Linked DNA regions of Homo sapiens. The protein of the gene in region 7 interacts with the protein of the main gene of each other region in a pairwise test. Each region holds a gene or a part of one and is shown on either strand. Other genes may lie near its edges. The genes, in order: C22orf39, BRPF3, SDCCAG8, IL37, C10orf88, THAP3 and CHAT.

Evidence for each region.
Region 1: the proteins of CHAT (region 7) and C22orf39 interact in binary tests that used the Homo sapiens proteins (3 or more experiments, as listed by UniProt).
Region 2: the proteins of CHAT (region 7) and BRPF3 interact in binary tests that used the Homo sapiens proteins (3 or more experiments, as listed by UniProt).
Region 3: the proteins of CHAT (region 7) and SDCCAG8 interact in binary tests that used the Homo sapiens proteins (3 or more experiments, as listed by UniProt).
Region 4: the proteins of CHAT (region 7) and IL37 interact in binary tests that used the Homo sapiens proteins (3 or more experiments, as listed by UniProt).
Region 5: the proteins of CHAT (region 7) and C10orf88 interact in binary tests that used the Homo sapiens proteins (3 or more experiments, as listed by UniProt).
Region 6: the proteins of CHAT (region 7) and THAP3 interact in binary tests that used the Homo sapiens proteins (3 or more experiments, as listed by UniProt).

Annotation. Positions count from the first base shown.
Region 1 is NC_000022.11:19,440,386-19,442,548, forward strand, and holds the end of C22orf39 (synaptic plasticity regulator PANTS), read right to left. Parts: 3' UTR 1,310-2,163; coding exon of another isoform or gene 1,259-1,309; 3' UTR 501-1,258; downstream 1-500. UniProt on the Homo sapiens protein: Negatively regulates long-term potentiation and modulates adult synaptic plasticity. Stabilizes the interaction of RTN4 isoform A/Nogo-A with its receptors, inhibiting clustering of postsynaptic AMPA receptors at synaptic sites.
Region 2 is NC_000006.12:36,217,244-36,220,743, reverse strand, and holds part of BRPF3 (bromodomain and PHD finger-containing protein 3), read right to left. Parts: intron 2,828-3,500; coding exon 2,734-2,827; intron 1-2,733. UniProt on the Homo sapiens protein: Scaffold subunit of various histone acetyltransferase (HAT) complexes, such as the MOZ/MORF and HBO1 complexes, which have a histone H3 acetyltransferase activity.
Region 3 is NC_000001.11:243,413,041-243,416,540, reverse strand, and holds part of SDCCAG8 (serologically defined colon cancer antigen 8), read right to left. Parts: intron 840-3,500; coding exon 712-839; intron 1-711. UniProt on the Homo sapiens protein: Plays a role in the establishment of cell polarity and epithelial lumen formation. Also plays an essential role in ciliogenesis and subsequent Hedgehog signaling pathway that requires the presence of intact primary cilia for pathway activation.
Region 4 is NC_000002.12:112,909,908-112,913,964, forward strand, and holds the start of IL37 (interleukin-37), read left to right. Parts: upstream 1-1,257; 5' UTR 1,258-1,341; intron 1,342-3,055; 5' UTR 3,056-3,105; coding exon 3,106-3,187; intron 3,188-3,884; coding exon 3,885-3,947; intron 3,948-4,057. UniProt on the Homo sapiens protein: Immune regulatory cytokine that acts as a suppressor of innate inflammatory and immune responses involved in curbing excessive inflammation.
Region 5 is NC_000010.11:122,944,228-122,947,727, forward strand, and holds part of C10orf88 (ATPase PAAT), read right to left. Parts: intron 1-3,500. UniProt on the Homo sapiens protein: ATPase that regulates mitochondrial ABC transporters ABCB7, ABCB8/MITOSUR and ABCB10. Regulates mitochondrial ferric concentration and heme biosynthesis and plays a role in the maintenance of mitochondrial homeostasis and cell survival.
Region 6 is NC_000001.11:6,627,868-6,630,964, reverse strand, and holds part of THAP3 (THAP domain-containing protein 3), read right to left. Parts: intron 2,467-3,097; coding exon 2,274-2,466; intron 1,323-2,273; coding exon of another isoform or gene 1,241-1,322; intron 678-1,240; coding exon 612-677; intron 1-611. UniProt on the Homo sapiens protein: Component of a THAP1/THAP3-HCFC1-OGT complex that is required for the regulation of the transcriptional activity of RRM1.
Region 7 is NC_000010.11:49,627,537-49,631,036, reverse strand, and holds part of CHAT (choline O-acetyltransferase), read right to left. Parts: intron 3,430-3,500; coding exon 3,252-3,429; intron 1-3,251. UniProt on the Homo sapiens protein: Catalyzes the reversible synthesis of acetylcholine (ACh) from acetyl CoA and choline at cholinergic synapses.

The DNA.
Region 1 (2,163 bases), on a different chromosome or scaffold from region 7:
ATAAAAATGTTGCCTAAGGATTCTAAGTCCTTTGGCCCCACCTGAGACAAATGCTGAATGGAACCACTTTTCATGACCTCCACTGCTGCCTCTGAGGTCCACGTCATCGTCAGTTTTTGCCTGTTCTATTGCAGTGGCCAACTGATCTAACCACCCCATCCCTTCTCCACACAGCAGCCAGAGGTCTCTAGAACCAGGTCAGGTCAGGTCTTTGGCTACCTGCCACCCAGAGAATCGCATACCCAGATTCCTGATCACAGCTCACAGCACCCGCTCTGGTCAAAACATGGTGTCAGGTCCCTTTGCCTTTGTGGGTCCCTTTCTCTGCCTGACAGGAGTTGAGCCTCTTCACCCAGGTCTGGGCTCAGACACTGAGGCCTTCCCCACCTCCCCGCCCAAGGTAAGTGTCCAGCACAGGTGCTTGATAGCAGTGTTTTTTTTTAAACAGTAGGTTTCATCTGTTAGGTTGTAAAATCAGTTTGGTAGGTCATGGCCGACAGTTTGTTTTCAACTTTTTATTTTGAAGTAATTATAGATTCACAGGAGGTTGCATAGGAGGTTGTCTAGGGAGGTCCTGGGTACCCTTGCCCCAGCCTCCCCCAATGTTAACACCTTATACACTACAGCACAGCATCAGGACGCAGAAATTGACATTGGTACAGTCTACAGAACATACTCAGTTTCCCCAGTTACATCTGTACTCCTTTGTGTACCTAACTCTACACAATTTTAACTTCATGTATAGCCCTGTGTAACCACCAGTCAGGCTGACAGATGGTTTTCAACACCACAGGACTCCCTCGTATGAACCACCCCCTCACCATCCCTAACCTAAACCCCTGGTAACCTTTAATCTGTTTTCCATCTCTATAATTACATTATTTCACCAATGTTACATAAATGGAATCCTGCTACATGTATGTTTTCAAGATTGGCTGTTTTTGCTCTGAAGAATTTCCTTGAGTTTCATCTGAGTTGCTGTGTGTACAGCAGTTACTGAAAATGGCACTATATCACATACAGTACGGATACATATTGTTTTGTATTTCAACAATAATATGCTATATATAACAGTCTATGCCAGATAATAATGTAAAATACTTATTATTAATATGGGGTTTTATCCAAAACATTTATTTTTATTTTTAAAACATTTATTTAGAGATGGGGTCTTGCTCTGTTGCCCAGGCTGGAGTGCAGTGGCACGATCATAGCTGACTGCAACCTCAAACTCCTATCCTCAAGTGATTCTTCTGCCTCAGCCTCCCAAGTAGCTGAGATTACAGGTGTGAGCCACCACACTTAGCACCTGTCCAAAAAGTTTGAAAGATATTGCTCTTATTACAGTATTTGTTTTCTTCATACCACCACCATAAAATACCAAACTGCTTCAGAAATTACCACCATTTTATTTTTATTTATTTTGAGACAGGATATTGCTCTGTCACCCAGGTTGAAGTGCAGTGGGGCACAATCATGGCTCACTGCAGCCTCAAACTCCTGGGCTCAAACAATCCTCCTATCTCAGCCTCCGAAGTAGCTGGAACTACAAATGCACGCCACCATGCATAGCTCATTTATTTTTTGTAGAGATGGGGTCTTGTTACGTTGCCCAGGCTGGTCTCGAACTCCTGGGCTCAAGCAATCCTCCCACCTCAGCCTCCCAAAGTGCTGGGATAACAGCCGTGAGCCACCACATCCAGCCACCGTTTTAAATTCCTATTTATTGATGTTTAATGTCTGTCTTTTACCCAAACTACAACAGAAACTCTTTGAAGACAACTTGTCTGTTTCAAAACTGTGGTCTTATAAGCCTCAAACCCTGTCCAACATGTGGACACTCAGATGTTGTGAAGCAATTGACATAGAAACAAATGCAGGAACATCCTGTCCAGAGAGATTATCTGTTGATGTGGAACTTGAGTAGTGAAGGAGGAGGCAAAACATGATAGTCACACTACAGAGGCAGGACTTAATGCTTCCTAACAGAGCATGCAGCCGCACAATGCATACCTTGCTAAACAAGCAGGTGGCAGGGAGCGTGGCTGCACTGAGGGGAAGCCCCTCATGGACTGGGGTGCTGGCTGGCATGCCCTGGCTTTTGCTGCACTCTCCAGCTCTGCCCCAGGAACCTGAAGGCAGCTGCTGCAATCCCAGGCATCA
Region 2 (3,500 bases), on a different chromosome or scaffold from region 7:
AAAATACCCAGTTTACATTTAGGATTTAGTTCCCATTTACCCTATAAAAATCTGCCAACATATTAGAGAAATTGAGGCCTTGTACAAATGTAAAGTGCTAGTAATTTTATCAGGAAAGCCTCTCAAAGTTCACGTCAAGATGAGAAAAAGAAAAACAAATCAAAGTTCACATCAAGAATCTGGGGAGACATCTTCAAATACAACAGAAGACAGCACAGCAAAGTAGTTAAGAAATTAAACTCTTGGAGCCTATCTGGGTTCAAAACCCAGCTCTTGTTATCAGTTCTGTAACCTTCAGCAAGTTACTTAACTTCTCCGAGGCTTACACTCCCCATGTGTTGTTGTAAGGATTAATGAACGAACACACATAAAACTCTCAGTACAGCACATACCATGCAGTCAATAAACACAGCTGTAGTTATTGTCATACGAAGGATAGTAAATTTTAATGTCTTACTTAAAGTATTACAAACTGCTAATACTGTACTATAGAATGATGAGCTCTGAGAAGGATGAGCTCAATAAAATAGGATGCAACACCAAAAATAGGTCTGTATGTTCCTGATTTGTAGAAAAAAGCACAACTGACTCAATCATGGCCTGCATTTCAGCCCTTTCTCCAAGTTACCCCAGCCTAAGCAGACAACCCAACCTACAGTTATCTTATTTACTGGTTTAACATCCATATCCATGAGAACAGACACCTTAGAAGATAATCTTCATGAGAACAGGCACCTTAGTGCTTAGAACAGTACCTGGCATACAGTAGGTGTTCAGTTATCAATATTTGAATGAGTGATCTATAGAAAGCACATGTAGCACCAACCTGCTCAGAAAATCATCAGAAAAGATAAACCAAGGGGTAAGTGAAAAAGGGAGTGTGGGGGATGGGTTAGTGACCAGTTCTTTCAAGGTTATTTCTAATTCTGGGATTATATGATTCTGGTCTAATAAATAAGGTCTTCCCTTATATACTTATTACCACAGTATGGGGGGAAAAAGAAAAACAACCCTTGCAGTTGAAGCCTTTGGATCTCCTATTTTAAACCCTGAAATATTAATACATACTTCCTCCAAGGGGCCCCAGATAAATCAAGGGCATTGCACTGGAGTTCTGCAGAAAGGCAAACACGCCACCTGAATTAGCAGGCTAACCAGAGCCTGGCCTTGCTTGCTCTTGTGGCTCATAGCTGAAAAGAATGCCCTTCATAGAAGAAGGGGCCAACAACACACCTTTCACTTTTAGTCAAGAGCAAGAAAAGGATAGTTTGATGGGTCCAATCCTACCCTGACCCCAACAAAGTGGGCTTCCAGGTACCTTATCTTTGAAGGGAGTCAGGAACTTCAACCCAGGGCCAGGCTAGAAGCATCGTGTAAGATTCTGAAATCTTTCTCTTTCCTGTGCCTGATAATTTTTTCCCATCTACTTCCCCTATATCTCTGGAGGCTGCAATAGGAAGCTAGGGCAACTCTGAGGGTTGGCGGGGGGTAGGGGAATCTCAGAGAAACCACAGCAGGGAACCAGTCCAGGCCAACGAGTAGCTGGGGACCCCCTCAGCCCTACCAGTAGTCCTACAGCCCAGGTAGACTGAATGCCTAAAAGAACACATGCCCAGTCTGCCTTGGAAGCACTTCAAACACAAATAGTCTTCTGGTGCTGCCCTGGGACCTTTCCTCCCCTACTCTGAACCTAAGACCCATTCAGCAGTCATGGGTGGGGCCATGACATTAGCCTTCAGGACAAGTCACTTTTCCTTTGTGGCAGTGAGGGTTTCTCATTTCTAAGAGTCCTCCCCGCCCTGGTGTCTTGCAGAACACAGAACACAGAGCAGGGGCTCCATAAGCTCTTGTGCCTGGAAGAAACTTTAAGGTCTGGTCTGAGAAATCCTCCCTTCAGATAAAAGAATGGGAAGAAATCCATCTCTTTTCAGCTCAAGGACAGCAGAAGAGCTTTGGGGCCTTTGTCTGAATAAAAGGCAATTCCAGGCCAGGCGCAGTGGCTCACGCCTGTAATTCCAGCACTTTGGGATGCTGCGGCGGGCAGATCACTTGAGGTCAGGAGTTCAAGACCAGTCTGGCCAACATGGTGAAACCTCATCTCTACTAAAATACAAAAATTAGCTAGGCGTGGTGGCACGTGCCTATACTCCCAGCTACTCAAGAGGCAGAGGCAGGAGAATCACTTGAACCCAGGAGGCGGAGGTTGCAGTGAGCCGAGATCGGGCCACTGCACTCCAGCCTGGGCAGCAAGCAAGACTCCGTCTCAAAAAAAAAAAAAAAAAGGCAATTCCAAATTTCCTACTTGGTCATTTCATACACCTACACCACACCTCTATAAAGAGGCTATGACGCCCCAAAAGGCAAAGAGCAAAACCAACTCTGTAATGGCTGGGTTGTCTAAATGTGTGTAGGGGCAGCAGGGGACTTTGGCTCAAATGTTAATTTCACTGAACAACAGGAGATTTAGCTTTTCTTATCCTCTAGAGTCCAAATTCAGCCCCACAAACCCTGTAAGCATCAGCACTACTCTTCCTCTCTCAGATCAGATCTGAGAGTCAAGGGTCACCCTGTTTCCTAGGAACTCCCAGAGTTACAGATAAGAGGCCTCAGGAAATAGCAGGAGTGGGGGAAGAGAGAAAAAGGTAAGCAGGAAGAGGTTCAATCTGTAGCTGAATGGAGAGTAAAAGGAGGGGTAGCAGAGCTGCTGACAAAGCTTTGGGAATGTGTTCTTACCTGCAAGCTTCAAATGCCAGTCCACCACTGAGACCCAAACTACATTCAGAGTCAGACCCGCTTTCGGTGTGTTTTCCAAAGCCGTTGGTCATGCCTGCCAAGGACACACACAGTGAGTCTGAGTGCAGAAATCCCCCTTCCCAACACATGCTACAGGGTGAGGCAGCCACCTCAGGAGGGCTCAGTGACGAGTGGAGAGGATGGCTATTCCTTTCCCTGTGAGAAATGGGTCTTGGGTGATAGAGAAGATCTGATCAAGATAAAAGTTTGGGGGGAAATATTGCTGGCTAGGGCAAGGAGCAGACACTGCAATTTCCTTCCCATCCTTCTGCTTTTTGTTTAAGGAAACCATAGCACACAGCTCACTCAGCTACTGTCATTTGGCTACACAGGGAGATACTAAGACTTCTCCTACCCTGGCTGGCTCACAAGTCCTTGGATCTGCTTCTAATTTCAAACCTCGATTATCAGGTAGCCTTCTCTGCCTTTTTCAGGAGCCCAACCACCTTGCCTCTTCAGATAAAGACTCACATAACCTATGCATCACACAGCTGGCAACAGCTAGTTTGATTCTTTGGGGGTGGTGTCAAGAGAGACTAGAGATGGATAAGGGCCCTTTGTCAACCACACCCTGAGATATCTCACAGGGCTAATCCAAAGTGAGGATGGGGGCACTCTTCAGCGGAACTAAAGCAGCCCGGAACTTCCTGGGAGGGAGAGTCAGAACCTGGGGTTCTAGGCTGGGCTCTGAAACACAGGTTCCTTTT
Region 3 (3,500 bases), on a different chromosome or scaffold from region 7:
TGCCTTGTATTAGTGAATTTTAACAGCAGTTGTGAGAACTTGAAGAATGCAAAGGATTAAACATCACTCTAGATTGGGTTGGGGGAGGTGGGGAAATCATACAAATGCTAAAAATGTTCGAAGCTGCAAAGATTAAATAAAGGAACATATCAATTTGGAGCCACTGAATTACATCCAGCTGCGACAGTGAATTAAGAACCGATTAATGGCTAAAGCTTTTCTCCAGTTTGGATGCTGAAGCAAACTCATTAGGCTTTTAGAGTAGCTATAATGTGTGTACTGTGGGAACTGTTCAATGCTATTCAGGAGACTCTAACTGTAAGCTCAGAGCATTTCCCGCAGAGCTTCTGATGCTATTTTCTTTATATAACATGTGTGCCTGAAAACCCAGCCAAAAACAAGCCCTTTGTTTTTCTACTTTGTTGTGGTCTCTCTCAGCTTTACGTTTCTTGAACACAGGTAAATAAACTCATAATCCAGATGGTGCAACAGATGTGAGAGCAGCACTCTGAAATCAACAGACAGTGGGCAATACTTTCCATTTTCTCTTTTAAACGCTAACTAATATGTAATTCGGAATCTCCGGTGTAGTTAGCATCTGCTCCCTTCGGCCAGCCAAAGGTTACAGGTGTTCCTGATGTCATTTCACAGTAAGGCGTGGGCCTGACTTGTGAGCTAGTGCCCAGGCTCTAATCTTTCCCTACCACCTACCAGTTTTGTCATGCTGGGCCTCCATTTGCTGTATCTTCTGTGTCAGCTCCTGCTCTCTTTGCTGGGCCTGAAGGGCTTGGGCCTTTGCTTCCTTGCTAAAGCTCTGCTGAATGCTATCTTTTTCCTGTCTGCAAAACAGAGAGGAGACATACAGAAATTTAATCTGCAGATGCACAAACCCCCATCATGTCCCCTATAGACCAGAGAGAGCTGATACGTAGTAAATTGTTAAGCATAAGAAGACAAGGACCTTTCTAATGACCCTCCCCCACTTTAGGGGGAAGATCCAAACAACCTTCCATACAGTGTTAAATACGTGCCATGAATCCAAATGGACTAAAGTGTGCAGTGTCAAAACATCATAACAACTAAATAATGGTATTTTGTAACTTTAAAACACAAAACTTTTTTCTCTAATATTCTTAATGTTTTACACTATCAATGAATGTTTCATCTTCTGAGTGGTCAATCTTTCCCAGAGATACTGGAACTCTAGGAACAAAACTTAAATTCTTAAAACTAAGCTTTGTAGACCACCTCTGTTTTCACTCTAAACTTAAAATGGAATCTTAAATATAATGCAGGAGCCTCTATCTAGAGGCGAGTAAATGATTCTGCAGTGCCACATTCATGTTTTCACTAAATATCTTCACACATCAGGCCATATAATGTGAATATGAATACAAATATGAATACGAATAACTTCCCCCAGCACTTCATAATAAAATCCCTCGTGGGTCACATTGAAAGAAATTGCAGGATGAAAAGCTTCTGTAGTCAGACAACAACCCATCGTACTGTGATAGGACACTGACCTATCCCACTGGGTCAATAACCAAGCACAGTGGCTCCAAAGAGAGAAACTTCCTAAACAATTAGAACCTGGGGAATGCAAAGGACCTCAATGCTGGCAGCACTGTGGATACTGACAGTGTGTGTGTGCATGTACATGTGCACACACACACACACACACACACACACACATATTAGAATGGTTCTTCAAACTCTAAATATGGGTAAGTGATATTAGGGTTTCCTTCAATTAACTGACTTAGTTATTTCTAACTCCTGATCTCCTTGCGGGCATTTCTCATCCATGCTGCTTTAGTTTACTAATTGAGATATTTACTGCTTAGCCTTTGCCAAACTAAAAATAAACAATTCCATAAAGCTATCACTACTAGTCTATGTACCGCTGTGGAACTTCAATTCACTGGCTTCTAATTATAAAGCAACATAAGGAAAGCCTGTATTAAAATTGGTCAATGCATGTGGTCATGTTGTAGTATAAAATTCTGGAATGAAAATACACCCACACCTCACTCAAATGGAATCATCGGGGGTCCATGCTAAATGTGAAATAAGGTCCTGTCTGGTACTTCTAATAACAACACCTCCCCCCGGGATGTGGTCCAAGGTCTTGCGTCGCACTCGGTTCCAAACCAGTATATACAACAAATGGATAGTCAGACTAGGCTACTTTTTGCCTCCCCAGTCACACCATGTATTTTCTGGCCATGGATCACTGCACATGTCTCTTCCTCTTCCTGGAAAGCCCCTCCACCTGCCCACTCAATCCCCCTGTAAGATGTATACATACAACTACCCGCTTCAGGCCTAACTCAAAATTCTTCCCCTCTCCTTCCTCTCTCCTGAATTAACTATTCTTCCCTCAATGACCTCAATATATGTTGTGTACATCGTACAAAGATAGTATTTATCACACTTTAGTTATTGTTTAACATGTCTGCTTCGTTTGTCATCTTTATCTCTCTATACCCTCAGCCCAGCCTCAGTGCTTGGCACACAGGAAGTGGGTGGTGAATATTTCATGATTGGATGTTGTTATACTCTTGTCATAGGGGAAAGGAAGGCTGCTATCTTAACGTGTAGCTGGAGAATCTGCTTAAGTCTTACGAGAGGAGGCAAAAACTTTTCAGACGTGTTAGAAAAAGGTGCTTAGAAGAGAATGGTTCTAATGGCTCTGCCAGCTGGAGACCGTGCTGCTAAAGGAGTCAGCTAAAAAAACAAAAAGCCCTGTCAGACCATCCCCAAGTCAGACCCCCTGCCGGGGCAGGAGCCAGAGATAGAAATCTGGGGCTCTGCAACCCCTAACAATTGGGTGACATAAATGCATTCTCCAACACCAATACCCATCTGAAAGTGAAAGGGGCACTATTAATAATTATACCAAGATAACAGTCACAACTGAAACTACCCATCACAAACTGGTACTTACAGTTCCCCAATGTAAAGGGGTTGTCAATCTCACCATCATTCTTTAGAATAAGCTGCCTAATTACTGATATTCTAAATTGACTATAGGTCAGGCACGGTGGCTCACATCTGTAATCCCAGCACTTTGGGAGGCCAAGGTGGGCAGATCACTTAAGGCCAGGAGTTAGAGATCAGCATGGCCAACAAGGCAAAACCCCATCTCTACTAAAAATACACAAATTAGCTGGGCGTGGTGGTGCATGCCTGTAATCCCAGCTACTTGGGAGGCTGAGGCATCAGAATCACTTCAACCTGAGAGGTAGAGGATGCAGCGAGCAGAGATTGTGCCACTGAACTCCAGCCTGAGTGATAGAGTGAGATTCTGTCTCAAAATAGATAAATAAAAATAAAAAATAAATTGACTATAGAAAAGAACTACTGTCATAATTGAAGTCCTTTTTATAAAATAAAACAATTTAAAAGACTTCTACCAACAAATGTTGAGTTACACATCAACTGATGTTTCTCGAATCCTTCCCCAAATTTCCCTCTATTTGGGAAACTATACATTA
Region 4 (4,057 bases), on a different chromosome or scaffold from region 7:
CAGGGATTTGTATTCTAGCCATCAAGGGAATAACATTTTTCCAGGTCTTTAGACAAATAATGGAATACCTTGCAGTAATTAGATACACTATTGTAGAAAAGTATTGATGAAATGGAACGATGTTTGAGATATCATATTGAGTAGAAAAGGCAAGATACATTAAGTAGGAAATGTATCTTACAAAATAATTTGTCAGACACACTCCTATATTTGTATGTTATATAAATGCGTATGTGAAGAAAGGCTAGAGGATGAGACCACAGTCTTCGGTGAAGTTTAAGAGATGAGGCTGCAGCATGCTCAGAAAGGCCTGGGTTATAGTTCTTCCAGTAATTAAGGATGTGATCTTGGGTAAATTGTCCATCCTCTCTAAACTGCACCACCTTTTGTCTGTAAAACAGGAAGGATGGTATTTACCCCCAGGGTCATCAAAGGATTTGGTTGGAGAAAAATAAATAAATGGGCTGAGCCCAGACCTGGCACAGTGAGAGCACAGTGGTTGACTATTGTGCTGGCCTGTTGTTCCTGTGTTATTGACATGCTGCTGGTGGTGGTCCAGAAGCTATTACCTTAATTGGTTATGTGGATTTCCCCTCATACTGAGCAGCTGTGTGTGGTGTTGTAAAACATAGCCATACACAGTAACTGACAAGGGCAAATGTGATGGAAAAATGCAAGGAAGTGCAGATAAATAGCTAATGGGCTGTAGAAGGAAGCTAGTCCTTGGAGGGCTTGATCAAGGAAGGTCCTTTTGCATGTCACCTTTGAAGAAGAGGGGACATAGAAGAGGTATAGTGCATCCCGGAGTGTACCTGGAAGGGAACATGAAAAGAGGACATTTTTCTCTGGGACATGGGGACTCCACTTGCATGAACTCTGGAATTGGGGCAAAGAACCATCATGAGAACAAGGGCTTCCTTGAACCTCCCAGGCTCATTGGCTGATCTAAACCCTGTGTCCCCTCTTTCCTTCACTCTCCTCTGTTTTCTATACCTGTATTATTGGACTGGACTGGAAGCCACCTGATCTATCACAAGTACCTTGAAATGTGTTGAATAGGTGTGGCACAGTCCTTAGCAGAGTGGCACTACCCCCACAGGAATTTGTTTATACCGTTGGCATGGAAAATAGCAGGAAATGAGTGATCACTGATAACTGAGGATGCTATTTATTATTGGCCAAAGGAATACTTGTGTTGTATTTGCATAACCACTCACAAACTGTTGATTACAAATGAGTACCAGACCTAGCTCCTTCAAGTAAAGGATCCTGAGAACTGAAGGCAAACAGAGCTCCAGGAGTCCAAGACAGAGCCACAGACCACGAGGATCCCTGGCCCAGGTAGGTGGTCCTCCTGCACTGGCTTTCAAGGCCAACAGGATGGATGGGGAAGTAGAGTAGCATCTGGCCATCTAGACCCTTGCTTTTTATCCCCACTGGAAGCACATCTGAATTTCTAAATATGATCTCTGAGACCTGCCCAGAACACCTTGCTCTCAGCCCCAGTAGCAGCCTGCTCTCTCCCAGGAGGGCTTCCACTAACAAGTAGGGCATTGCTGGAGGGCCAGGCAGACACTAGCTTAGGAAATCCACCAACCCTGGAAATGCTAGTCCCTTCTCTGAAGGCTCAGAAGACTGACTTTAGAGTCTAGAAAATATTGGTCCTTGGGAACAGATTTTGAGTGCAAAGAGATGGACTTCAGATGGCCAGATGCACTGCTTCTTTAGGGAATTCTGTGAAAGCTCCCTGCATTTATCTTAATACAGGCAGCAGATTTCATGAGTACCCCCGAGGGATGGCCCCAGGTCCTCCAGCCTGTGAGCATCCTTCTGTCCTTCAGCAGCACCACAGTATCTTTATATGTCTTTGGATACCTACGTTTCTGCCAGACATCTCTTGCTCTGATGTTCTGGCTGCCAAATTCTCTGTCAAGCGCCTCCAATTTTTTGTGTCCTTTGATTTACCCCAACATGACAAAGGCAGTTGTGCTTCATGTATTCAGGGATACTGCCAAACCACAAACAGGTTAAAATCAAATAGCAGATATCCCTGTTCCTAAAGACCCATCAGCTCTACCCACCTGCTCCTGCTCACCGTCCTTATTGTTGAGTCCTGAAGCCCTTCCTTGTCATTTTTATTTTTTGCATGAACAATTTAGTTCCCTTTGTCTCACTCCTAAACCTTTCTCAAAGGATTGGATTTGTACACAAACTGCCTATCTCTGCAATCTTAGAAGTGATATGATTCTGAACAAATCACTTAACTTTTGATTTTTTATCGGTAAGATGGGAATACCAATTTTTGCTCCACTTCTGTCCTATGTTGGCCTGGGCTGATGTTGAAAGCTCTCGGTCAACTGAGATAGGGTGTGCAGAATTTATATATATAAATATATCTCCTCCAACCCCTCCCAATGAAGCAAGTCACGTGAGTCAATCCTACCCTAAGATATTAGGGATTGAGCCTCCTGGGACATTTGGTGGCTTAGGTTTTCATGAAAAGAGGTTGCAGAGCAACTGCTTTTTGTTAGGCAAAGATTAGGCTACTGCAGAGACTCAGCAAACTTCTATAGAAGGTGTCAGATGGTAAGTATTTTAGGCTTTGCTTGCCAGATGATCTCTCAACTAGTTAACCATGCTATTGTAGCCTCGAAGCAGCCAGAGACAATATGTAAACAAGAGCATGGCTGTGTTTCAATAAAACTTTATTTAAAAAAACAGTCAGGGACCGGATTTGGCCAAAGGCCATAGTGTGCCAGCCCCAAGACTAGAGCAATGCACTTTTAACTTTTTTATTTTATTTTTGTAAAATGCCAAGATCCACAAAAATGCTATTGCACCCCGTGTGTTAGCACTGTGACTCAAGGTTTGGGAAATTCTGCTTTGAAGGCGTGATAGACAGGAGAGCATGGTCTGGCCCCTTGGTGCCTTTCTGGTTGCAGCGAGCATTTCAAACTACAGAGCAAGGCCAGTGGTCTGTTCAGCACTAGAGACATGCAGCAAGGTGTCCTGGGGTGAGAAGATGCCATAACTGGTCCCCTTTCTATCTCCTTAGGTCTTGGACTTCATTCCATTTTCTGTTGAGTAATAAACTCAACGTTGAAAATGTCCTTTGTGGGGGAGAACTCAGGAGTGAAAATGGGCTCTGAGGACTGGGAAAAAGATGAACCCCAGTGCTGCTTAGAAGGTAAGGTTCTTGTAGAAATCTACCTCAGGGCCAAAGTGTAATTCCTAGAGCAGAACTTTGCTAGGTGCTGTGCACAGACCCAGTTGTTTCCTGCTGACTTGCACAGTAAGTGAGCTTTCAAATTTCCCTGGACAAATAACTAGACAAGAGAAATTCTGGAAGGGAAAAGGAAGCTTTGCTTCAGTGTCCAGGCACATCAGGTAGTAGATAAAAGGATCGTCCTCACCTACAGATTTGGGGCTTTAGCATCCTGTTTGCCAACTGGATGGTTGCATATGCTTCAAAATGCACCTCTTCCCTCCCAACATTCCCAAGTGGAAGAGAAGCCTCCGATGAGAAGCAGCTCTCTAAGGCTGGGCTGAACAAATGACCCAGGCACAGGGCATCTGAGTATTCCATGAGGAACACATTTGGGTGTTGCCCATGGGGGACAATAGGAGGAGGCTTTTGACCCAAATGATTGTCTACTGAGGTGTGACGGGAGAGGCCTGTGACATGCCAGAGGCCAAACCCGTGATCCAGTTCATCTCTATTCTATGTTTCTGAAGAGGGAAGCTATGATTTAATGTCATTACTATCATGCTGCTCTAGTATTTCTCAGCACATACACAGAAGAGGGAATTAAATGGTCTTTGATACCCCTAAATCCTTGGAAAATCCGAATTGCATATGCTAACCTCACTGCGTCTGACTGCAGACCCGGCTGGAAGCCCCCTGGAACCAGGCCCAAGCCTCCCCACCATGAATTTTGTTCACACAAGTAAGGCCTCGGGGTGAGGTGATGGGGGTGGCTGAGGTGCGAGGGTGGGGATGGGGGATGGAGCCATTGGGTCCTCTTACAGGGTGGGAGAATTGTAGAATGGGGACACC
Region 5 (3,500 bases), about 73 Mb from region 7:
ACATGGATGAAATTGGAAACCATCATTCTCAGTAAACTCTCACAAGAACAAAAAACCAAACACCGCATATTCTCACTCATAGGTGGGAATTGAACAATGAGAACACATGGACACAGGAAGGGGAACATCACACTCTGGGGACTGTTGTGGGGTGGGGGGAGGGGGGAGGGATAGCATTGGGAGATATACCTAATGCTAGATAACGAGTTAGTGGGTGCAGCGCACCAGCATGGCACATGTATACATATGTAACAAACCTGCACATTGTGCACATGTACCCTAAAACTTAAAGTATAATAATAATTAAAAAAAAGAGTTATTATCAAATCACAATGTACATAAAACTCACTTAGACATGACTGTTTAAAACACTGATTCCTGGACCCCACCCTCTGGGATTGAGTAGATAGTGAGGGCCAGGAATCTGCATTTTGAAGACCTTCCAAAGGATTCTGACACAGGTGTTCAATGGAGTGTACTTGAAAAAATACACTGCCCTAAATAAATTCTTAATAAAGCTCAAATCTCACAAGCTTTTCAAATTCCTTATTTATCTTCAATATTCCTTTACACAAGTATCTAATTTCCTCTTTATCTCTAAACTTGAAAAAAAAAAACCTGTGTGCACTTAGTAACTCCACATCCCAAATACCCAGTTACTACCTAATCCCTCACAATTTGGTTTACATCTCATCACTATTCAAACTTACTCCCTGAGGATCTCCAAGAAATAGCTGATCAATCCAATAGGTGTGTGTGTATATATATGTGTATATATATATATGTATATAGATATATGCGTGTATATATGTGTATATATATATGTATATAGATATATGCATGTATATATACGTATATATATATGTATGTATAGATAGATATATGTATGTGTCACATTACAATGTTTTGGTCCACAATGGACCCACATATGACAGTGGTCCCATAAGATTACAATGGAGCTAAAAAATTCCAGTCCCCAAGTGGTATCATAGTAACACATTACTCACATGTTTGTGGCAATGTTGGTGTAAACCAACCGATTGCACACTGCCAGTCATATAAAAGTATAGCATGTACAATTATGTATACTGTATACTACTTAGTAATAATAATCAATGACTATGTTGCTGGTTTATGTATTTACTATACCATATTTTTAGTCTTAAAGTATATTCCTTCTGCTTATATGTTTTAAAAGTTAACTGTAAAACCACCTCAGGCAGGTCCTTCAGGAGGTCTTCCAGAAGAAGGCATTATTATTATACAAGATGACAGCTCCATGGGTATTACTGTCCCTGAAGACCTTCCAGTGGGACAAGATATGGAGGTGGGAGACAGTGATACTTATGATCCTGACCCTCTGTAGGCCTAGGGTAATGTGTATGTTTGTGTCTTTGTTTTAAGCAAAAAAGTTTAAAACTTAAAAAAAAATTAAATACAAAAAAAGCTTAATAGAAAAAGGATATAAAGAAACCAAATATATTTGTACAGCTATACAATGAGTTTGTGTTTTAAGCTCTTTACTACAAAAGAGTCAAAAAGTTTTTTAAAATTTAAGTATATAAAGTTAAAAAGTTACGATAGGCTGGGCATGGTGGTTCACGCCTGTAATCCCACCCAGTACTTTGGGAGGCCAAGGCAGGTGATCACCTGAGAACCTGGAGTTCGAGACCAGCCTGGCCAACATGGTGAAACACCGTATCTACTAAAAATAAAAAAATTAGTCTGGTGTGGTGGCATGCGCCTGTAATCCAGCTACTCAGGGGCCTGAGGTAGGAGAATTGCTTGAACCCAGGAGGCAGAGGTTGCAGTGAGCTGAGATCATACCACTGCACTCCAGCCCAGATGACAGAGGAAGACTCTGTCGCAAAAAATAAAAAAAAAAAAGTTACAATAAGCTAAGCTTAATTTATTATTGAAAAATAAAAAATGTTTAAAGAAATTTAGCATAGCCTAAATGTGCAGTGTTTATAAAGTCTACAGTAGTGTACAGTAATGTTCTAGGCCTTCATATTCAGTTACTGACTTACCTAGAGTAACTTCTAGTCCTGCAAGTTCAGTTCATGGTAAGTGCCCTATACAGGCGTGCCATTTTTCATCTTGTATACTATATTTTTACAGTACCTCTTCTATGTTTAGATACACAAATCCTTACCATTATAACTGCCTAGAGTATTCTGTAAAGTAACATGCTATACAGGTTCGTAACCTAGGTACGTAGTAGGCTATATGATCTAGGATTCTGCAAGTACATACCATGATGGTTTCATAACCATGAAATCCCCTAATCACCTTTGTTCTCAGAACATATCCCCACTGTGAATTGATGCATGACTGTGTATAATACTTGGAGCCATAAACAAGACAGATAAGTCTTGTTTACATGAAGCTTGTCTTTTAGTGAGATAAACATGCAACCAATACAAAAACAACAACAAAGTGGTCAAAAGGGCACTGATGAAACTGATACGGATTTGGAGGTACATGCTACTTTACACTGGTTGGCTAAGAAAGGTGTCATTAAAGATGTAACATTAAAATGAGATCTGAATAAGAAAAATGCAGATACAGAAGTATCACAGGGAGGGAGTTCTGGCCACAGAGAACAGTTATGAGTGCAAAGGTCTGGAGGTGGGAACATATCTAGATATTTACGGAATACACATATCAGAATGTCTGGAGCAAGCTGCCCAAGGAAACATGGCAGGAGATGAGGTTGAGAAGGCAAGCAGGGCCTACATTTTAGAGATTAAGGTAAGGAATCAGGATTAATTCTAAGTACAAAGGGAGGCAAGCAGTCAGGGGGCTTTGCACAGGAGAAGGATGAGATCCAATTATCCTTTGAGGTCATTCTCGGTACATTGTGGAAAACAGATTGTAGCAGGACAGGTGGGCCAGTTAGGAATCTCCTGAGGTATCCAGGTGAGAACATGGTGTGGGAGGAAGAAAAGTATACATTTCCATCTTTTTTGAAATTCTTCTTTCTGTGGTTTCCATAATCTTCAGCTCTCCTGGTTCTCTTAACTCAGCCCATATTATAATACTGGTACTACATTAATATTTGTGAACCACACAACATCTACAAGGAGTTCTTTACTTGCATTACTTATTTTAAATTTTCACATCAATTCTGTGATCCTTACAGTGTTATCATTTAGATTTTGTACATGAGGAATTCATATTGAAAAAAATATTAATTAACTTGCCATAGGATGCAGAACTAAGAAGAGGCAGGACAAGAGTTTGAAGTCACTTTACCTGACATCAAATCGTTTCTCTTGCTACTCTATCACACTGCTGCCTTCTATGTTTCTGGTTCCTTTTTCCTCTCCCTTCACCACCCTCCGTCAGCTACTGTGGGTACACCCCTAAACTTCCCTTCCAGCCACTGAAGGTTCATTCCATTTCTCCTAATCCTCTGTTTCCAGATGTTTGCAACATCCTTCCAGGGAATGTCTTATTCACAGCTAAAAGTCAATGTTCCCAAAATTAAATTCCTT
Region 6 (3,097 bases), on a different chromosome or scaffold from region 7:
GACTGAGGTGGGAGGATGGCTTGAGCCCGGTAGTTTGAGACCAGCCTGAGTAAAATAGCAAGATGCTATCTCTACAAAAAAAAAAAAGTGGGGGCCCAGGCGCGGTGGCTCACACCTATAATCCCAGCACTTTGTGAGGCAGAGGTGGGTGGATCACCTGAGGTCAGGAGTTCGAGACCAGCCTGGCCAACGTGGTAAAACCCCGTCTCTATTTCAAAACACAAAAATTAGCCGGGCGTGGTAGCGGGCATCTGTAATCCCAGCTACTCGGGAGGCTGAGGCAAGAGAATCACTTGAACCTGGAAGAGGTTGCAGTGCGCCGAGATCATGCCACTGCACTCCAGACTGGGTGACAGAGCGAGACTCAGTCTCAAAAAAAAGAAAAGAAAAAGGGAATCAGGCACGATCCCTACTAGCAACTGAGATTCTTTGATATTGAAAAGAAGGAAGCTGAGAGGCTTGGGCCTTCCCTCCAGAAAAACCGGGAATCCAAACTGGCATATGAGGAAAGGCGACAGCCCTGCGGGCCGGCCTTGCTGGGAAAATCCCACCTCCCTGTCTCAACCCACAGCATAATTTAAACATTCAAGTACCTGGCCCGGTGCACTCACCTTTTCTTTCTGAGAAGAGCTGGCATTTCCTCTCTCACTGGCAGGGTCTGTGTTCTCCCTCACCTGCTACAAGAGACACACACAGAGTGGATGCAGACCCCAAGAACCCTCAGAGCTCGGGGCAGGCCTCGGGCATCATGCTTGTCCCCGCTGCTCGGCCCACTGCATGCCCCAGTCAACGAACAGCTGCTAAATGAAACTGACCTGAAGCTCAGCCCAACTCACACTGCCCGCTTGGTGCGCTTCTCTTTCTCCAAAGATGTCCTCAAATCATGGTCAGAGTGCCCTGAATAGGTCCCTGTAGAGCTAGGGACCCATCTACTTCCTATGTGTCACCCCAGGGCCTGGCACCTGGCCCCATGACCGCCAGCAAGCAGCAGAAGCGCAGCTCACCACTCGAGGTGCCACTGACCCAGAACCTGCAGCCCCTGGGCCACACTGGGGTGGGGCCCACAAAGCAGAGCTGGCAGAGGCCGTACCCAGCTTCTCCCCACCAACCAGGCACTGGAAGCACCGAGGGCTACAGTGACAAACGTCCCCACTCCCAGTGGCTCAAGTGTCATCTTTCCAGGACAAACGTTATCACAAATACGTGAAGGTGATTAAAGTGTTCATCTATGGACACATACCCCGAGCACCTGGGCTGTGCCAGGCAGCGTCCTGGGTGTGGGGCCTGAAGCAGGGAAGGCAGCCCCTGCCCTCATGGAGATTCTGTTCCAGGGGAGAAGACAAAACCAATGAGGGAAACAGGAAGGACAGCAGGGGCCACAGGGGCCAGGAAGACTGAGGGGCAGGAAGGGGTCGGAGGCAAGAGGGGGTTTGAGGGTCCAGAAGGGCTTCCTGAAGGAAGGGACTGCCAACCTGAAGAGGTTCAGGCAGACTGCATGAGGCTATCTGGGAAGGGTGCTGGGGAGGACAGATGGGGCAGGGGCTCCCAGGCGGCCGCTCTGGGCGTGTTTGCTACGTGGCCGCTTTGTTCTTCCCATCGGCTCCACTCTCCACTCACGGATCCCTTTCCTCTCCCCATAAATCCACCAATGCAGGGAGCTGCTGGCCTGTGGCTTGTCCCGCCACTGCCCTGCCTGCCCACTCCACGTGGGTGCCCCTGTGGCCTATCATGCGATCTCAAGGCTTCAGCATCCAACTCTTTGTGAGCCCTCTCCTGAGCCAGGCCCACACATCCCACCTCCACCAAGGCAAGCTTGGCTCACTGCAACCTCTGCCTCCCGGTTCAAGAGATTCTCCTGCTTCAGCCTCCCAAGTAGCTGGGATTACAGGTGCCCACCAACACACCCAGCTGATTTTTGTATTTTTAGTAGAAATGGGGTTTCAACATGTTGGCTGGGCTGGTATCGAATTCCTGACCTCAGGTGATCCACCCACCTCTGCCTCCCAAAGTGCTGGGATTACAGACGTGAGCCACCGCACCCAGCCATAGAATAATTCATTTTTAAAATGCCTTTAATTTATGACTTCTCTTAAAGCCGAGGTCATGGCCAGCAGGGCCACAGGGCTGTGGACCCCAGAGGCGTGACAGTGCTGTTGTCACTGGAGTTCTTGGCCTTGGCTTTTCCCACACATGCCGCCACCCCCACTGCCCCCAGCTGCTGGTAAACAACGCAGGCTGGATGTGACCAGACGGAAGGTGCAGTGCCCTCCTACCTGTGTGGGGTCCTGAAAGGCGAACACCGTGGGCACGGCATTGTGCTTTAGGTTCTTGCGGTTTCCAAAGGCGCTGAAGCACTCTGGCCGGAAGTGCTCGGAGCAGATGACCGTGTGCTGCTTGGGCTTGAAGTTGCCCCGGCCGATGTTCAGCACCCATTCCTTCAGCAGCTCCGGGCGGCTGAACGGAAACCTAAGGGCAGAGGCACGGGGTGTGAGGCCCAGCAAGGCTGGACCCAGCGCCTCAGAGTCATTCGGAATTTTCACATCACTACAGAGTACTTCCCTGGACAGCTGTGGACATTCAGTCCTCTCGGTTTATTAAATCACATCTAATTTCTGGAAGCTTCTGTCACAGCTGTTAAAGCACTCTTAATAGGAAACCCGAGACCACGAGCATGGCCAGAGAGCCCAAGTGAGCTGCTTCCGATGCTACATTTGCCAGGAGCCTACCAGGAGCCGGGCCCTGTTCTTCGTGCTAGGGATGGGGGGTAATGAGACAGTCCTGGCCCCCAAGAGCTGATATTCTGGAGCGGGGGCACAGTGATGAGCCACACAGATGTGGACGGTGTCTTCTGGGGATGACAGCTGCTCCAGAGAACAGACAGAGGGAAGCCCTGGGGTGGTGAGGAGAGGCAGCTGAAGGGGTGATGTTTGAGCACAGACCGCAGGAAGTGGCAGCACAAGCGACGCAGGCTTCAGAAGGGACAGCAGGAACGGCCACTCACGCAGGTCCAGCTGAGACAGCGAGAGGGAGTGGGGACTGCATGACGCAGGGCCCTGAGCAGCTGGGGAGTCCCTGGAGGCTCTAGACAGAGGTGAGA
Region 7 (3,500 bases):
TAATTAGCCTCTCCTAAAATGTATCACTTTGAACCTTCATATATGAGCTCAACACAGTCCATAAATCTTATCAAGTTTTTCAAGTCTTCTTTCCCACTTTCCAGGAGGCTATTTCACACAGTCGATTTCATCTTCAACATCCAACTGCCCGCCTCTTATCTCAAGGTTGTGATCTGAGACCAGGAGGTACCAGTTGGGAGCCTCTGCATGCTCCTACCTCTGCTGCCTCAGGCCCAAGCTTTCCACTTCACCCTGTACCAACCAAAGGCCTCTTATTTTCTGAGTTCTATCTCCTTTTGCCTTTGCAAGAATTCCACCCCTCCATTCATCTCCTATCTCTTCATCAATTTCTTTTACTAAATTCCTTCCATACATTTGTCTCTCCTCCTAAAAACACCTCCCTTGACCCTCATCCTCTTTTAGCAACTCCCTCATTTTTCTGCTCCTTTTAGTGTCAAAATGTCTGAGAAAAAGTCGACCATACTCACTGGTTCAACTCACTGACTGCCTCATCGACAATTTCTTTCTGCTGTTGGATCACTTCTGTCAGTGTGCAAGCATTTGTTCTCCTGCTACTCCAGTCTGACCCTCAGTAAGCCCAGTGACAACTTCAGGGTTGCCAAGCCGGGTCCCCTGTGTCCTGTTCCTCCTCCAGCTCTCCACAGCATTCCATGTGGCTGGCCGTTCCCTCTGTCTTGAATCTTTGTGACTCTTCTGGCTTTCCTTTACTTCATGGGCTACTCTTTCTCAATCCCCTTTGCATCCTTCTCTACCTGACCTCCAGGCTCCCTGTTCTTCTGTTTCTAGATTATCTCACCCAGGTCCATGACTTTAAGGATCATTTATGCGCTGATGTCCCTCAAATTTATTGCTCTGTACTGACCTCTCCCTTGGGCTCCAAACATATATATTAAGCTTGACGTCTCCACCCAGATGACCCAAGCACCTCTAACCCAACATGTGTGGCAATGATTTCTCCATCCTGTACCCACTCCCCGACCCTGTTTCCCATCTTACTAAATGGCACTAACATCCACTCACGGCTCGGATAAAAAGCCCAGGAATTGTTCTCGCTTTCAATGGCCTTGACGTCACTGGTCTCTCCATCTTCACTCTCAACCCTGTCCCAAGCTGCCATACTCTTTCACTGGGAAACCGAAATCATTTTGTAAATGGTCTCTCTGTTTCTGTTCCATAGGCAGGGCTGCTCTGGGGAGGGGGGATCTGTGAAGGATCAGTTTCCTGTTGTGTAGATGACACAGTTGGCGCTAACTGGATTAATCGGATTACCCAAGGGGAGGCGCATGTGTCCCCTCCTTTCTGTCGCATTTCCCTCAGAAACAGCACTTCCATTCAGAAAGCCAGATCAAGTGCCATTAACAAATCAATTCTGATCTGCAGCCCAAGTGCTCAGACCTTGGGGCAATCCAGCCAGCCCTGAAGGGCGTGTCTTGGGCCTGGCCTGCTAATAAAGTGGAAACTATGCTGGAGGCAGAGGCGATTATTTTGATGCCTGTCTCTGTCCCTGAAGGGGAGAAGAGTGGGATTTGATTACACCATGGTCTCCCGAGGGAATTAACTCACTGCGGAATGCTAAGTTATTAATTCTCCAGCACGAGGTTAGGTCCGGGAGGGCAGTCAGCTCTCACACCCCTCTTTGGCTCCTGCAGCCCCCTATTTATGACAGCATTCAGGAGGTGCCCAATAATTGGATGAAAGAATAATTAATTGGTAAGTCGGGGAATAAGTCTGGGGCCTGGCATTTTTAATCACCCTTCACTCTTTTATTTAATAAATGTAACTGGGCCCAGACTGTGTTTCTCAGAAATTAAACCAAACAGACAAGGCCCCTGTCCTTCTGACCTTATAGGCAGTGGGTAGGAGGTGGGGGGAAAGGCAGATAATCAGCATTTATCAAACAAATGCAAAGTTGTCCTCAGAGAGTGAGCAACAGAGTCAAGGTAAGCGAACGGGCCACAGTGACAGAGTGTGCGGGAAGGATGCCCAAGGCAGGCCTGAGGCCGGACACCTGGGCTGAGCTCTGCGTGCGGCAAGGAGCCAGCTGGATCTGGGGGAAGACCCTTCTAGAGAGAGACCAGAAAATGCAAGTGGCTGTTAGAAAAAATAGGCCCAGTACATCCGGCTCAGGCCACCTTTGCTGGGCAGCTATTCTCCTCCTCACCCTGGGGGTAAGGTGGGTGTGTCCCTGCTGGGCCTCGGGCTTTGCCCAGGGTTGGTCTGCCTGCCTGGGTACCATCCTTCCCTCCAGCCTTTCTCACTCATGCCATGGGGCTTTGTTCCATTCCCACCTCTTCTAACAGAGCCTTTCACAATCCCACTCGGAAGGGCTCCGTCCCCTCTCTGAAGTCCTGGAGCACGTTTTTGACGCCTGTCTGAAGTGGGTCAGCACTGCATGCACCTGGATGTGAGTCTCCTCCCCATGCCCCCTCTTCCTGTTCCCATCATGGGGCTGCTCTTGGGTAGAGGCCTCAACTCCTTTGTCTCCCATACTCCCTGAGCCAAGCCCAGGGCCCTCAGTAACAGATGTGGAGAGTCTGAATAGATTGCCTGACCCAGTAAAATTCTGAGGGGTAAATAAAGACTCACAGAAGTCTTGCTTCTCATCCAGTGTCTCTAACATGGGCAAGGAAGGAGAGCATTCCATCAGCTCCTGGAATAGGACCAGCTTTGGATTTGAAAGTAGTTTCCAGAAGGGTGATGAAAAATTTTCAAGAATATTCCTGGCTTTCTTATGGGAATGCTTGGAGACTTTCATCAGAACAGTGCCACAAGATAAGGGACAGCTTGAAGATGAAGAGTCCCAGGATGGAGAGATCAGGTGAAAGAGGTGGTGAACCACTTTCCCAGAGGCAGGCTCCATCCCACACCCCCATTCAGCGACTCCCCCAGCCACTATCAGTGAGCGCCACCCACCAGGAAAACACACCTGCTCACTTGCAGCCAGCCTTCCTCCAGCTAACTCCCCCGCCCCGCCCAGTATTCTCAGACATCCCCAATTCCAGCACTAGTTAGTCCCACCAAGAAAGCCAGATACTGTCAGATGGAACACGAGGGCACAAAAGGTGGCTTCGGTGGCAAGGCACTGTGGCTGGCCGCAGGGCATGCTGTGGGCCCTGAGCTCCCACACTATGGCTGATGGGGATGAGGCCCTGGCCCAACCCTAGAGGAGGGAAAGCCAATGGGCACGAGCATGAGATGGGCATGGAGATGTGCTGGGCACTGCGGCTGACCTTTCACGAGGACCGTCCTGGCCTCGGCCCACTCGCTCCTCCCGTCAGACGTCAGCAGGCCAATTGGAGGCAAACGCTCGTCCTCGTTGGAAGCCATTTTGACTATCTTTCTCAACTGAGTGAACAGATCCCCCTCACTGAGACGGCGGAAATTAATGACAACATCCAAGACAAAGAACTGTGGGGTAAACAGGTCAAACATGTCACTTGTTGGGTGGCCCGTGGCACCAGGCCTTCACTCAGCCTTCA